Linked DNA regions of Homo sapiens: region 1 is linked to region 2. Evidence: fine-mapped expression QTL. Tissue or cell type: subcutaneous fat. Region 2 holds a variant in brackets; the other region holds the start of a gene. All regions are shown on one strand. Distances are from middle to middle.

The links. PIP is the estimated chance that this variant, and not a neighbour inherited with it, causes the effect.
Region 1: LINC02995 starts here. The variant in region 2 is fine-mapped to the expression of LINC02995 in subcutaneous fat (GTEx, PIP above 0.99).

What each region holds. Positions count from the first base shown.
Region 1 is chr5:173,576,193-173,584,192 of GRCh38, forward strand. It overlaps LINC02995 (long intergenic non-protein coding RNA 2995), which reads left to right and starts at 3,442. Exons shown (of 4, transcript NR_027108.2): 1 at 3,442-3,490; 2 at 4,037-4,183; 3 at 7,086-7,716; 4 at 7,918-8,000.
Region 2 is chr5:173,670,579-173,678,578 of GRCh38, forward strand. No RefSeq gene overlaps it. Among named protein-coding and RNA genes, the nearest start is that of LINC01942, 15 kb to the right of the region's middle. RefSeq lists an enhancer at 1-21. The variant G/C (reference allele first, on the strand shown) is at 4,334.

The DNA of each region.
Region 1 (8,000 bases), 94 kb before region 2:
ATCAACAGGTAAACTGCAGGTCTGATACGGATTGACAGGTGCCACTCAGAGTGAGTACGGGTGGCAGAAACTCAGAGGGGTCCGCCTGCCCAGTCTGGGATTGGGAAAGGCATCTGATTAGTTTCTCATGGCTGTTGTAACAGATTACCACTACCTTAGTGGCTTAAAACAACATAAATGTATTCTCTTATGACACTGAAGGTCGTTAAGTGTGAAATCAGTTTCCCTGGCTATAGGTGTCATCTGAGCTGGTCTTTTCCGGAGGCTCCAGGGGAGAATCGCTTCCTGGCCCTGTTCAGCTTTGGGAGGCTGCCTGCATCCTTGCCTGCAGCCCCCTTCTCCTTCTTCAAAATGCACCCCTGCAACCTCTGCACCCAACATCACACGGCCTTCCCTGCTGCACTCAAATGCCCGTCAGCCTCCCTCATTATGGACACTTGTGATGACATTTAAGGCCCATCTGGATAATCTAGGACACTCTTGCCATCTCCACATCCTTACCCACACCTGCAAAGTTCCTTTTGTCATAGAAGGTAGCATTCCTGAGTTCCAGGGATTGGGACATGGACATTTTGTGGTGGGCATTAGTTGGCCTGCACAGCTGCCTAGAGCAGACATCTCTGCAGCGGCAGGCCAGAAGAGTGAGGGTGCTCCTGGGTGAGGGCCTTGGTGGAGTGGCAAAGGCAGGGAGGGAGAAAGCCTGGCATAGTCAGGGAAGGACAGATGAGCAGGAAAGGCTGGCAGGGGCCAGATCTCATAGGGTCTTGAAATCTCAGCTTAGTCCTGAAGGAATTGCGTCTTGCACAAAACCTAAACATTGAGTGAAGGCTGTTGTCTCAGCCAGGGCCCTAACAGGACACAGATGACACACTAAGATGGGTAACTGAAGTGTGGGTTGATAAAGACGCTGTCTGCAAAGGGGTGGACGGGGTTAGGGAAGCCAGCAGAGCATGGAGCATGCCTGGGACTGACACAGCTGTGAGGTGCTACTGTCTCTTTGGGGAGCTGTGCCTACCCCTAGACCCGAAGAGAGGAGGCCAGGGAGTGGCTATCAGAACCCAGAGAGGGTGGCTGTGTGGAGAAGCACATATGAGTCTGCAGTAAAGGGACACAGCCTACCTGTGGTAACCTGGCAGGGAAGGACCGGGGGTAACAGATGTCCAAGTCCATTCTTCCTGCCCTGTGAGGGCCTGCCCATGCTCCCATTGGCCAAACCCCACTTGAAGCCAGAGAGCAAGAGTGATTGTCCCCATGGCATGGCTGGGTGGGCACAGCAGGGAGGAGGAAGATGGGGTGGGGACAGAGACACCCAGCGCAGGTGTCACATGGGGAGTAGCACCACCAGATCATTGTGGAGAAAGATCACACTGGCCGTGATGTGGAGGGTGGACCCGAGTGGGACAGAGGAGGAGGTGGGGAGGTCAGGGCATTCCAAGTGATTTAAAAAGCACATTAAAAAATGCATTTCCCTAGTTAGGGGTCCATTTACCCGAAGAGGTATCTGGGATTGTTCTGCTCCCAGCTGTGTCTGGTAGAGTGGAATTCGTCCCAAAGTTGCTGTTATATATCACACCAAATGTCTCCCTTGCAAAGGTGCAGCGCCAGTAGAAGGCCTCAGGCAGGCTTGGTTGCAAACAACAGAAACCACTTGTATTGAGTTTAAGCAGAAATGGGATTTATCACTGGCTACTTGGGGGCCCCAGCATCTTTTGAATGACCTGGGAACTGGGCTCTAGAATATGGCCCAAACGTGCCACCTACTGCAGAGCAGCTCCAGGAAACAACACGGCAGCCTGCCCTGAGTAGGGCAACTGCAAAGGGGCTTCCAATGTCGCCTCCCCGCCAGGGTGGAGCCCATGGGACCTTGCTTCGTCCTGGAGCCCCTGGCTCTGAATCTGAGTCTGGTGCAGGTACATCTGTATGGTGAGTTTGGTCACATGCCTGCACCCTCCTGTCTGAGAAATAGAGTTTCTGGCTCCTCTAGACAGTCAGGGACTGAGGAGGCAGGAGCTCCCCAAAGAAAAGATGTTTGAAGCACTGGACAAGAAGAAAGCGGGACGAATGTTCATTACAGGTAAATAAAGGTAAATTACTTTAAAGCTCAGACCGTCAGGTATCCCAAGGAGAGACGGCATGCGTGTGAGTGTCATGTGTGTGAGTATCATGCATGTGAGTGGTTCCATCCTTAGGAAGAAAAACATGGGAGGAACCTGCAGTGTGCAGCCTCTGTCCAGACCCACCTGCTGAGGGGCCCAGGCACCCCAAAGTATACCCTAAATATGATCAGATCCAGGGAGCATTGTGACTGAGTTTTCAGGTTAGCCTCTGTGCAACCTGACTTCCCATGGGCAGGGTGGAGTGCTGGGAGCATTGATTCAATTCTTCCCTTGAGCACTCTTCACCCCCATCTCTCTCCAGAAATGTACCGAGAGTCTAACTGCTCTATACTCTGGGAGGAACACGAACATGATTCCACCTCAGTTCCAAGCTTTCTGAGAACCATCCTGGGAACCAGCAAGCATGACAACTCTCCACCTTCTGCATCAGTCACTTGCAAGGAGGCCAGTGGGCACAGTTCATGCTACTGAGTGAGATGGCGCCCAGAGGCCAAGGCCAAGGGCAGGGCTGCATTTTCTGGTTCTTTTATATTTGTAGCAAGATACTCTTAGTGGAAGAGCCCAATATCTGGGCTTGCCTAAAAGTCTCCTTAGCTAGATCATTCAATTTATGAGCTTTCCATCTTGTTGCAGTGTTGCTTAATTTCTGCCTCTCCATAACAAGAATCACCTTTCTTCCAGTCTCTAATGCATTGTTCTCACTTTCCTATAAACCCTCACCAACATTCTCCTCCCACTACTGGCTTCTCCAGTGCCCTTTAGGCTTTCTCTGACACTTTCTTCAAAGTCCTTTCAGCTTCTGCCCTCTGCTCAGTTCCAAAGACGCTCCCACATTGGTAGGTTTATGTTCCATCAGCACCCCACTTCTGGTACTAAGCTTTATATCAGCTATCTACTGTTAGGCAACAGCCAAAACTTAGTGACTTAAAACAGACACAAACATATATTATCTTTCACAGTCTCTGTGAGTCGGGAATTCAGGAACAGCTTAGCTGGGTGTTCTGGCTCCAGGTCTCTCATGAGGTTGCAGTCTAGATATGAGCTGGGACAGTGGTCATCTGAAGGCTGGAATGAGGCTGGAGGATCCACTTCCAAGGTGGCTGACTCAGATGGTTGGCAAGTTGGTGCCGGCTGCGGCAAAGGCCTTGTTTTCTCTCCAGGTGGACCTCTCCACAAGGCTACTTGAGCAGCCTCACAACATGGTAGCTGCTTCCCCAGGGCAAGTGATCCAAGAGCAAAGGTTGAAGTCACAATGCCCTTATGACTTAGCCTTGGATGTGACACACCATCACTTCTGCAGTATTCTACTGGTAACACTGACCAGCTCTGATTCAGTTTGAGAAAAGAGGACACAAAAGCATGAATAACAGGAGGTAAGTTTCACTGAGGGCCTGTGGATCATCTGGGAGCTGTCTACCACCAATAGTCAAAAGAAAAAATTAGGTATAAATATATGCATACGTGTGTGTATATATATATGTATGTATAATTTTAAAAATATATATTTATTATAAAAGTAATTAATATTATTTGTAGAAATTTAAAAAAAATTTAGAGTAGCAAAAATAAGACAGTAAAGATTACCCCATAATAGCTCCATGCAGAGAAAAATCATTATCAACATTTTGGGGTATATCTTATCAGCCTGAACTTTAAACATTTTTACAAAAATGGAATAATACTGGACAAAATCTTTCATGCTATCAATTTTTTCATTTACTAGTACAGTCAAAAACACAGTTTTATTGCATCTTTTTTCATGGTAACATTATATTCCTGCCAGTGATTAAGATGTAATTGATTTTTCCAATGCGCTATTACTGGACATGTAAAGGTTCTCAAATTGTTACATCATTAACAAAACTGGAATGACCATCTTCAGAGCTAACTTGCTGTCTTTATCCCTGATCTTTCCTTAGGATGGATATAGAATACCAGCATCAGCAAGTGTACACGATTTAAAGCACATTTGGTATCTATTACCAAGCTGCCCTTCAGAGAGGTTGTCTCGTTACACATTCCACAGCTGTGACTGAGAAACCGTCTTGTCGCATTTGACAATCCAGGTTACTATCTAAAAACTTGAGTTTGTAAGAGCAACACGCCATGAGATAATATTCGTGCAAATGTAACTGACAAAAGACTAACATCCCATAATACTAGAGCACCTACAAACCAAGAAGATAAACATCCCATTGGGAAAGTGTAAAAATATGAACATAAAGTTTACAGAAGAAAAAACACAAATGGCTCATAAACACACAAAAAGATGATATTGCTTCCTGGTAATTGGGGAAATGCAAACAAAAACTACAATGAAATATCGTGGTATCGTGTATCAAATTTGCAGAGCATAAAATAGATTACATTCGCAACCAGCAACTACAACCCAACCTTCAGCCTCACTGGACTTCTTGCCATTCCCCAAACCATATCCACGCCCCTCTCCACAGGCTGTTCCTTCTGCCTGCATGCCCTCGATGGCACCAAGGGGGATGGGCACACTAACACAACTGCTGGGAATGGGAAAGTTTCAACCTCTTGGGAATAAAATCTAACAGTATTTATTGGAATGTAACCTGTGCATACTCCACAGCTGGGCCACTACCCTGCAAGAACCCCTCTGGCTGCTGCACAAAGCTCTTCTCTGCATCCTTTTTTATACTAGTGGAACCCTGGACACAGCCTGCATATGGATCAAAAGGGCAGTGGTTATAAATATACTATGGTCCATCTCTAGGCTAGACTGTGATGCAGTGGTTAAAGCCAAGTATTGCAGAAGAGTGATTAAGCATTCGTGCTCCAAAGCCAGATAGCCTAGGTTTCAATCCCAGCTTTGCCACTTACTTGCTGTGTGATCTTGTGCAACTCACTTAGCCTTTCTGTGTCACAGTTTCTCCATCTGTATAACGGACGATAACACTAGCCCCTACCTCATAGGGTCATTGTGAAGAGTAAATGAAATTAATATTGCCTATGTCACAGAGTGATCCTCCTCAAAATCTATTAGATGAAAAAAGAAATTTCTAGAAATTATCTACATACATATTCTGATGGGATTTGTGTAAAGAATTTAACCAACAAACCCATATTACACACACATACACACACACTCACACAGACACACTCACACACACACACACGCACTCACGTGCGTAGAAGTAGATCTAGGAAGATCCATGACACACATGCGAGGCAGGTGAATGGGGACATTAAAAGGAGGACTTCCACGTTTAATTCTGAATGGTCTATTTTATTTGTGCAATTTTTAAAAATCAAAGCAATAAATCACTGTAAAAGAAACCTGCCAGGTTTTGAGTCTTACCATTCTACCCCGGGCTCACCCTTCTCTCTCATTGAATCTCAGGTGTCTTCGGGATCATTTAGTTTAGAAGAGGAAGAAATGTCCCTGGACCCCACCAGTTGAACACTAATGCTCCTTTGGGGATTGCGCCCTCACTGTCTCTCTAAGCATCTGTGGATTGGGGTCTTGTCCCTGCGGGCTCCTCCCGCCTACTCAGAGTGCGCCCTCTGGTGGTGATAACTTGCAGTACTGCGCGCCCACAGCACGTGTGGGGAAGGCGAAAAGCTTTGCTGATTCTCCCAGGGGCCTCAGCCCAGGAGCCCTGGGCTTTGACTCTGGGTCTAGTGCTAGTGGTGGTACCAGATCTCTGTCCCTTGTCGAGGAAGGACACTCTCTATTTGTTTTTAAGTTGTCTCTATCTAGGATTGTCAGATTTAGCAACTAAAAACACAGGATGCCTGGTTAAATTTGAATTTTAGAGAAATCACAAATAACTTTTAGTATGAGTATGTTGCATGACATCTACTAATTTTACACAACTCATACTTATATTAAACAAAATTATTTGTGGTTTCTCTCAGGCTTAAATTCCACTGGGCGCCTGTGTCTTATCTTGTGACTGTGGGAGGAGATCTGTTGGGAAGCGGGTAGGGGAGGTGGTGAGAAAGGAAGGGAGAAGGCCTGGGTATGGTGTGTGATGGAAGGGCACGATGGTTCAGGCGAGTCTTTGGTTGCAGGAGACTGTAAATGGCATCTGCTCTCCAGGCAGCTGGAGCTGTCAGGCTGTAGAACAATGCTGCTCAGCCCTGGGAGCTTTGAAAACCTGACGTGTGGGTCTGATTCCCACAGATTCTGATGTCATTGGTTTGGTGGCATTGGGGTGAGGGTAGGCTCTGGCATTTTTTAAAGCCCCAGGCAATTCAAATGTGCAGCCAAGGTTGAGGACCACTACTCTAGGGGATCTGCAGTGTGTGCATGTGTGCGTGTGAGTGTGCATGTGCGTGTGTGCGCATGTGCGTGTGTGCACCCACTCGTGTATCCCAGATGCCTTCAGCTTGCATATTCCCAAGTTCACCAGTCTGGGGTCCTTCCCGAGAGCCTCCCAGTCCACATGTTATGGAAAAGCCTTGGGCCCTTTCCAAGATGTTTCTAGATTCCCCCAGGGCTTATATTTTACTGGTCATCCCTGGCTCTGATTTCCTGTTCACACTGAGCACTCCCATCTCATTCCTTTCTTCCCCCGGGACTGTGTTTTCTTTCTGCCTGTCAACTTAATGCTGGTCTTTCAATGACCACCAGCAGCTCACAGCTGTCAAGTTTAGCAGATGTTTCCTGCAGGTCTGCAGTTAACAAGAGGTGTCATCCCCAAAGTAAATGATTCTACACTGAAGTCCCCATCTGGGCGGGGAACTCCTGCTAGGAGGAATTTATCACTGGCCATTTCCTCCTCCAATTCCCTCTGCCTCATTTTTACTTCTAGGCCCTCTCATTCTCTTTCAGAAATCACTTTGTCCCCTCCCAAAAAAACAAAGAAACAAAAACAGAAACAAACCCTTCTTCCTCTAGCAGTCAGCATGCAGCTGCTGATCAAGTTCCAAATTGCAGTTCCTTTCTTAATCAGAACAACTCAACTCATTTTTCCTATACCTCTCCTATGTGTCCAGGTATTTCCGAGAGTGATGCATGCTCCTTGGGAAGCATTGGGAATTCTGCACTTCTGGGCCAGCCAGCTCCAACTGCAGCCAATGTTTAAAAAATAGCATCTCTCCCTTCCTTCTATATGTACAGATCTTCAGGGATTTAGCAAATTCTCTTAAATAGCTAGAAGACCTTGCTGACTTCGATGCAAATATTCTGGCCAGAGAACTGAGGTCCTTGGATGAAACCCAATAATCAGAGGGGTCACAGTTTCCTTAGCCCAGGAGGAAGGCAGCTGGTGTCTCAGCAGATGTTCCTAAAGGCCTGGCTTTTTCCACATCTGTTCTGTGTGGTAGACAAGGAGAAGAGGAAGGGAGGAAGGGAACAGAGAGGAAGCAGAGAGAGCTGAAGATTAAAACAATACTGTACAGGTCCCCGCTAAAGATGGACTCTCTGGCTGCCAGGAAAGGACTGAGAGATAAATAGGAGGAGCATAAGAACCTGGGAGCTGGAGGCTGGTCCACCTCCCTCAGCTTCCAGGACCCAGAGGGAGGCAGGCACAGCCAGCCTTGGCCCTGTGGAACCAACACCTTCCAGCCAGGCTGCCAGGAAGCCAAATTCCAAATGTCTAAACTGTATTTTGCACTTTTCCACAAGGTGACCTGCAGCTGCTCTGATGGCCCCTAGGATTCTGTAGGGTACTGTGCAGTCCAGAAAACTTGACTTCCCAATTCTTCCCACTTAGCCAGCTGCCATTTCCTTCCCTCCTAACCACTTTCCTTCCTATTCTTTTCCCTCTGTATTTTCCCCCTTTGTTTTAAAAGTTCAACATGAAACTTTACTCTGTACACTCATCAGGTCAGCAAAAATTAGAAAGTCAGCTAATGCCAAGTGTTAGCTGGAGTAGGGGGGGAAGAGGAACCCTTGTTCTCTGCAAGGGA
Region 2 (8,000 bases):
GATTTGAGAGACCAGCACAATTATTCTGGAGATCATTAAGATTCTGGGGGAATGAGTTTTCTGGTTTTGCTTGTGATTTCCATTTTTCTCATTACTGACAGAAGCTGCATTTATGGATCTTTCTGTTTAAAACAGGAGCTTCTCGGGCTGGTTTTATTTTGAATCGGCCTCCCCAAAAGGCATAATGTCAAAAGCTTAAATGGGCTCATCTGGGCTGAATGTGTGAGAACCCCGGCCCCTCCCACCCCCACCAACTTTTTTTTAAAATTTTTTTTTTTCTTGCCTTTGGAGATGGGATTCACGGGCGTGGGCAGGCAATTAGATTTTAAAGCGGGAGAACTCCGTTGCACTTGCCAGGAACTGCTGAAGCAAGCAGGAGAGCCCGTGGGCTTTGAATCCTGGCACGGAGGCAGGCGCTCCCGGCCCAGCTCTCGTAGGATGGGTGAGAGGAGTGTGTTTGTCTTTGTTCTGAAAAGGGAAATTTAATTTCATTCCCTGAGCACTATCTGCATGGCGATTCCATAGCTAGGCGATACTGGCTTTCAAAAGCCTGGGCCATTGCCTAGTTTGGGAAATGTCAAGAGTTGGCATGGTCCAGCAGAGGGTCAGCTTCCAGTGGCAGGCCAGTGCCCAGGCTTCATGCTCAGCCTTCATCTGTGGCCCCGTTCCCAGGAGGGCTGCTATCTCTCTAAAGATCGAAGGACTTTGTGTCCCCAAGCCAGCCTTCTCACATGCTGCCGGCTGAGTCACGAGGTTGGGGGCTGACGTCTGATTTCAAAGCCACTGAGAAAGAAATGCCAACACTCGTTCAAGAAGCTGGCTGGTGCTGTGCCTAGAACTCTGGACTGGAAGCCGCCTGGAGATGGATCCGGACTTGGAGGAGCCCGTTTATGGGACCCCAGACCATGCTGCTGCTCTCACGGAGCTTATCTTCTCACAGCGGCGGGTGGTAGGGGAAGTACATGATGAAATGAACAGAAAGATATTGGGTAATGATAAGGGATGTGATGAAAATGAGACTGAGTGATGTGAGAGATCAGAGGGCTTCTCGGAGGAGGTGACATTTGAGGTGAGACCTGATGAGAAAGAGCCAGCCATGCAGAAATCTGAGGGAAGAGCATCCCACACAGAGAGAACAGCAACTACAACCCCACTGAGCAGAAAGCCAGCTTGGCATGTCTTTGGAACAGTGAGGAAGCCAAAGTGGTTCCAGCGTGATGAGCGAGGGGGAGAAGATGCCATGAGATGAAGTCAGAGTGATAGGCACTATCGTAGGAAGGAGTTTGACTGAGATGCTAAATATTTTGCAGAATTTTTGGAAGCAGGGGAGAGACAGCTGACCTGATTTGTATTTTAAGAGGATCACTCTGCTTTGTGCATGGAGAATCCATTGAAGGGAGCACAAGACAGGAAGCAGGGTTGATCATCAGAGCTACTGTGGCAAATGGGCAAATGAAGCCATTTTTATCTTCCTGTGACAAGGCAACTTGTCACCAAAGGGACAGGACATCCTTCTTCAAGTCAACATTTCTAGGGTTTTGCTTATTCTGAATATGGTGGAGGCTATGGTGGTTTACTTGAAGGTATGGTTTACTAACCAGATCCCAGAAACTCACCTGTGTGTAAGAGTCTGATTTCTCGAGCATTCGCAGCCCTGCAATAGCAAGTCAGTGAGAATGGCCTTGAGCACAGCGTCTAATCAGAGCAGGCCCCCACTGGAGTACCAAAAAGGCTGTGAGGGGCACCTGTGACAGTTTGTGGTGAACAACTGTGCAGCAAGACAAAGTAATACAATCCACGTCCGATTTTTAAGATGCATTCCAGACCAAAGGTCAGGTGCCTCGCTGTCTATAGAAATCAACATACAGCTAATATGTTACATATTGATGTCCTATGTATTTCGTAGCAGTCCAAAGTGATCAGTAGCTACATAGTATAAAAGGGAGACAAGTTGTGCCCATTTTATTGCACGTGGTGTTGTATACTATACAAACTTCTTAAATTCTTTCTGATTTCTAATCTTTTACAAGCTGAAAAAAATTAAAATATCAACAAGGTTAAATATGAGAAGAAGCAAAAAAATGCAGAAAAATTTATTTGAGAAGATTTGACAGTTCTTTCAATTGTTATGCTGGCAGGGGCAGGAGGATGCAGAGAAAAAGTCTAAAGAAGAATAAAAGAGCGTTGACTGAGGAGCAGGAGAGTTTGCAGAAAAGACTAGATGAGAATGAAGACTAAGTGACTTCGAGGGGCTTGGGGAGGGGCTGCTTGAAGATGTCAATGTGGGAGATGCTTCCTGTTGGTGAGAACCAGCAGAGGTGTGAGACCCTCACTGTGCCCAGTGCCAAGCCCCCACATTGGAAAAACAATAGAAGGAATGCAAAAAGGATCCACAGTCCTGGGAGACCGAGCTAACAGGCCCTGTTTCATCTTGGACCATGTGATGCGGAGGTTCCTGTTTCAGGTGCTGACTTCCTAATGAGGCCCTGCGTGGAGAGGTGGCCCCGGGATGCTATCTATCACACAGTGATAAACAAGGCAGCGACTGTTTCCTGTCCTTTTCTGCGACTGAATCCAGTCTCATCCGTCCTCCTAGGTGACGACCCATAGTCAACATCCTGCTTTTCCCATTCACGGCTGAAGGATAATGATGCCGGTTTTCATTGTGCTTTCGGACCTTGGGACATGAAGGGATAGGCTTTCTTTCCTGCCAGAGATAGGGAAAGGGTGGATGGGAGGGCTTTCCAACAAATGCTTCACCTTCCTCCAGTTGCATAGGAGTGGGGAGAGCCGAGGGAAATGCAGAGAGGCAGCCCTGGGGCTCCTGAAACCAGGCCAAGAGGTGCATTCAATCAAGGACTGACATTTGCCCATTGACCTCTTATCGGAGTTGCTAAGTCACTGGGGCCTTTGTGCTGCAGAATTGGAAAGGAAGGGTTCACCCAGCCCGGCCAATCCTGTGCCAGCTCTCTGCCCAGGAGCTGGCCATTAGCATTTACCTGACATCTGACTGATATCTTCATTTCACTTTGGTAAACAGGCCACCTCAAGGCCAAGGTGACAGTGACCTCTGGCGCTGCACACCGCACAGGATTCTCCCTGGGGACCCTGGCGAAGCACTTTCGCATCGGCAAGAGCTCCTATTTCCCCTCCCCACCCTCTGATTAGTGCTGACGATAAATAAATAACCATCCAACAGAATAGACAGCGGGCAGGCAAGCTGGACAGAGAAAGAGAAGTGTGGAAGGGCATGAGGGAGGGTTGGGAGAGGCAGAGGGGGAGTCGGACTTAGAAGGTTGCCTCTGCTGCTCTCCCACTAAGAACAATGCAGCTGCCCAGGAAACACACCCGAGCTATGAATAGGCTCAAGCACACAGGGCGAAGCTGTCGCATTTCTGCCGTTTAGAAAGGATCTCTAGTGTGAAGTTGCTTGGAGGCTCTGATTTTGCAAACCCAATTAAATATAGATTTCTTTGGGGTGACGGTTGGGAAGGGTGTGGGTGGAATGTATGTCTGTGCTGCAATGCAATTTAATCCTGAAAGTTTCAGCAAACCTATTCACACACTCCATAAACATTTCTGAGCACCTGCTGTGTGCCAAGTGCAAGGCACATCCAGCTGAAGCACACTTTGCCCCCCAAAAACCCATGGTCCAATGGAGTTGCAATGGCTACTACCTACCAGGGTCAGGCAGGCAACATGAATGAATGAATTAGGGAGGGTGTGGGACATTAGGGAGCGGTGGGGACTGTGAGAACGAAGTGCATGTGTCCTCTGTACAGGGACTGGGGAGCTATTCAGTCTCAGTTGACTGTCCTGTATTGTGCCTTATGATTTTTAAGGGGAAGCCATATGTTTGGAATTGCTTGTGTGTGTGTGTGTGTGTGTGTGTGTGTGTGCGCGTGTGGTTTTTATTTCTATTTTTTTTTTCTTTAAACACTGTGTGGGCCAAACAAACCATGTCTGTAGGCCTATTGGGACCAGAGAGGATCTTCTAATAACATATAATAAGAGTGACATAGAAGGCATCCCAGGGGCTAATGGAAGCCCTAAGTGGGGCATTTAACCCAGCCAAGGGTGGAGTTGGGAGTATCTTCCCAGTGCAGGTGAACTGAATCTTGGATAATGTTAGCCTAAATCATGGCCTGGTAAATCATGAATGATGGTGTAAATGATTGGAAGAGCCATTCCAGGCAGAGTAGTAATTTAGCTGGGCACTTTGCACATGCCTGCCCAGCTAAAGACTACATCTCTCAGCCACCCTGGAAACCAAGCATGGCCACCTGACTCATGGTATCTGTCTCAGTCCTTAAAGGGAAGGAGGGTTCCATTT[G/C]TCTGCACACCCCCGCCCCCCTTCCTTCTGGCTAGCAGGCGTGGTTGTCGCCAGCATAGATTGTGGAGCTGGCAACTCGACTTCTTTGGCTTCAATTTCTGTAAAATTAGGATATTATCTACTCTGAGAGATTTTGAGGGTTAAAGGCTTGATACTTATAAAGTATTGAGAACAGTGCCTGGCACATACATGGGCTGCCAAGGCATCATCTCATCAATAATTTTCTGTGGACGGTATTCTTTCGCAGCACTCTGGGGAAGGCAGAGCAACAAGAGGGCAAGAGCCTGGGTCCCCGTCCCAGACCTGCACCTGCACTAATATGTGAGAAGGCAACTGCACTCTCACCTAAGGCCCAGTGTTTTGAATCTCTGATGCAGCAACCAGGCTTACAATGAGTAACTCAGAGATTGGGTGGGGTTCTTCCTGGCCAGTGAGAACCAGAGAAAATGGCCTCAAACTGCCCCAAACGGCATGGCCTGTAAAGTCCAGAGTAGCACTAATCCCCAGGCACATGTGGCTCCTGGAGCCTCTGCCTCATGAGCTCAGCTTTCTCCTGTGCCAACCTGGCCTGACACATTAATGTTCTCAAGTGACCTAGCCCATTCTCTAGTTTCCATTCGTCAGCAACGACAGCCATTGACATGACCACCATGTGAAGAATTGCTGGTCTAAGCTGGCTTCACTGAAAGAGGTTTACTGAGTGAGTGCCTGGATGGAGCAGAGCGTGACCATCACACAGACATGACCCCCTGCGGAGGTATCTCCCACCCCAAGTCTCCTTCCCCTCTGTCCCAGGAGCCCATTTTTTCCAGCTGTGTCTGTGCAGAGGCCACACCTCCCAGAGGCTCCTCCTACCCAGGACTGCCTGGCAGGAATTGAAGGGGAGCTATCACTGGCAGACACGGAACTCTGCTGTTACTAGACCTTGGCTCAAGGAAGGCACTGCCAAGCCTATCAAGTTGGCACAACTGCCTAGAATGCTTCTACCCAATCTTCCTTCCCTCTGTCCTCCACTCAGGGTCTTGCATCACATGGCCTGACTGCTCTCTCTACCCTCCCTTCCACCCATTTTCTCTCACAGGCATTTGCCTTCATGAAACCCCTGTGCATTAACTCCCATCTCGGCATCTGTTTCTCCTGTAATAACAGTCTGCCAAAGTTTCTTGGAAGAAGAAAGAGATGCAATTAGTTCTTTCTCACTTAGGGGACTTAATCTACCCCCAGGACGATTTGCATATCTAAACAGAACAATACCTCACTAAGGGTGGTATTTCAGGCACCTGGAATACATGTGGGTCATGGTGGAGCTTCCCCAGGTGCCCTCAGATATAAGGGTCTGTTCTGTCCTTAGACAACTGGGAAAGTGAGGGTGCAATGTCTGGGAGTTGGGAAAGGCCTGGAGCTTTGACTAAGCCTGTTTCAGTCTCTAGGAAGCAATGGGAGGTATCTCATGTACCAGTTGGTATGCTTTAGGTAGCAGGTAAGAGAAACCCCAATGCCAAATGGTTTAAAGAAGAAGAAAGATCTATGACCCAAGGCAGGGTGTCTCCTGGGGTTCTCCACATTTCCAAGCATCCAGGTTTCTTCTACTGTCCTTCCTTTCTGGGGTCCTGGGCCTGTCAGTCCTGCCTCAAGTTGTTCTCCTCATGGTGCCAGGATGGTTGCCATAGCCCAGTCATCACACTCAAATGTACTAATGTTCAAAGGCAAAAAGAGACTGGCATTTTTGTGTTTCTCATTTTAAGAGTGAGCAGTTTTTCCCAGAGTCCTTTAGCAGGACTGTGGTCAAAATCAGATCACATGCAGTTTTGTATTCATCGTTGTCAGGGGGAATGAGATTGCATGTTCGGCTTGGACAACTGGGATTTAGTCTTGAGCTAGGAATAGTTACCTTGCCTGAGGAGTGGAGATCAGAATATGACTAGGTTTCTGTTAGCAGAGATAAAAGTGGAGGATGGCTCTTGGGAGGAAGGCAATAGTGTCTTCTGCAGCCTGCACGGGTTTGAAAAACGTGTTGATCCGTCCTCACTTTTCACCATTCAAGGTTCTCACTCTCTATTTTTGCTGAACTGTCTTTTGCTTTCCTTGATCTCAAAAGGCAGGAATTTCTTCTTGGTCTCTTGACTACAATTGGTTCTATTTAGCATCTTGCTGGTAGCCAGAATTGGTCTGATTCCTGTAGCTCATTTTACTGGTAAGTTAACTTTTGGCAGCAAGTGATTAAAATTTTTAGAAGTAATCAGAAGTAATGAAAGATCATTTAGAAATAATAACCTTCTATGTGATTTTATATTGAACATGACCTCTAAGTTCCCTTCCAGCTTAATGTTGCACCATAGGAACACAAGCCAGGTCAGCTTTGGGTGACCCAGGTCTTGGTTCTGGCATGCTGTGCAATTTGGGACAAATGAATGCTCCTCTCTGGGCCTCAGACTGTCAATCCAAAAACTGATTGGGGTGGGTTAGATTTGGGATGACAAATCACTTCATTTGAGCAGCTAAGTCAGCCTGAGGCATTATGCTAAAGACGACTCAGAAGTTCAATGGTGGAAAGTGCCATAATCCATTAGTGATGTCTGCCAAGGGTGTGAGATGGGAGAGGATTAGCACACTTTTTGTTGACTGAACTAGAGAATCTCAAATAACCCTTTAGCTCTACTATTCTTTGGTTTGAATTTCTTTCTTCCTCATAATTTATAGTGAGATTTTCAAGAGCCAATCTAGTGTGATAAGGAAATTGGCCTCTGATGGACCGGAAGCTGTGTGACCTTGGGCTTTTGGTTTTCAAACACAACATCATTTTGCCACTAGAATTCCTCCATCCATATAGAATCAGAAATAAAATCTTGGTCTGTATCCTCTTTACAAATGAACATGTCCTGCTTTATAGGCAGGTGCAGGTGTTGATATAGATACAAATATATAGATGAATATATGTGTGTAAATACATACACATGTTACATATATGTATACATACATACATATACTCATATGTCTACAAAGCAAGCATGATACATACTAATTCATTCACTTAGTCATTCAACATATATATGTTGCAATCCTATTATGTGCCAGGCATCGTTTGGGTGCTGAGATACAGCAGGGAGCAAGATGATCAGTCTCTGATCTTCTCAAGGAGAGATCTGAGACTGATCATCTTGGAGCTTTTATTCTGGGAGGAGGTTTTATTCTGGTCACAGAGAGAGAGACAATAAACAAATGAGTACATATTATTACATCAGTGTTGTGGAGAAAAATAAAACAAGATTGGGGGTGCAAGGTGATCCAGAAAGGAAAGTCTTACTTAGGATGAATTGAGATGCCTTCTTAGGTGACACCAGGTAGAAACCTGAAGGTGGTGAGGAAGTGAGCTCAGCAAAAACAAGACAGAAGAACATTCCAGGCAGAGGGAACAGCAATCACAAATGCTGTAAGGCAGGAATGAGCTTAGCAGCTTCAGGAAACAGCAATGAGACCAGTGTGTAAGTGTGTGTTCAGAGGAACACGTTGCCAGAGGAAAAGAGTCTTGGGAAGGGCAGGTGAGGTCAGGAGGGGCCATGTATTGGTCAGTACAGGCTGCCATAACAGACTACTGCAGACTGCATGGCTTTAACAACAGATACTTGTTTTCTCACAGCTCTGCAGACTTGAAATCCAAGATCAAGGT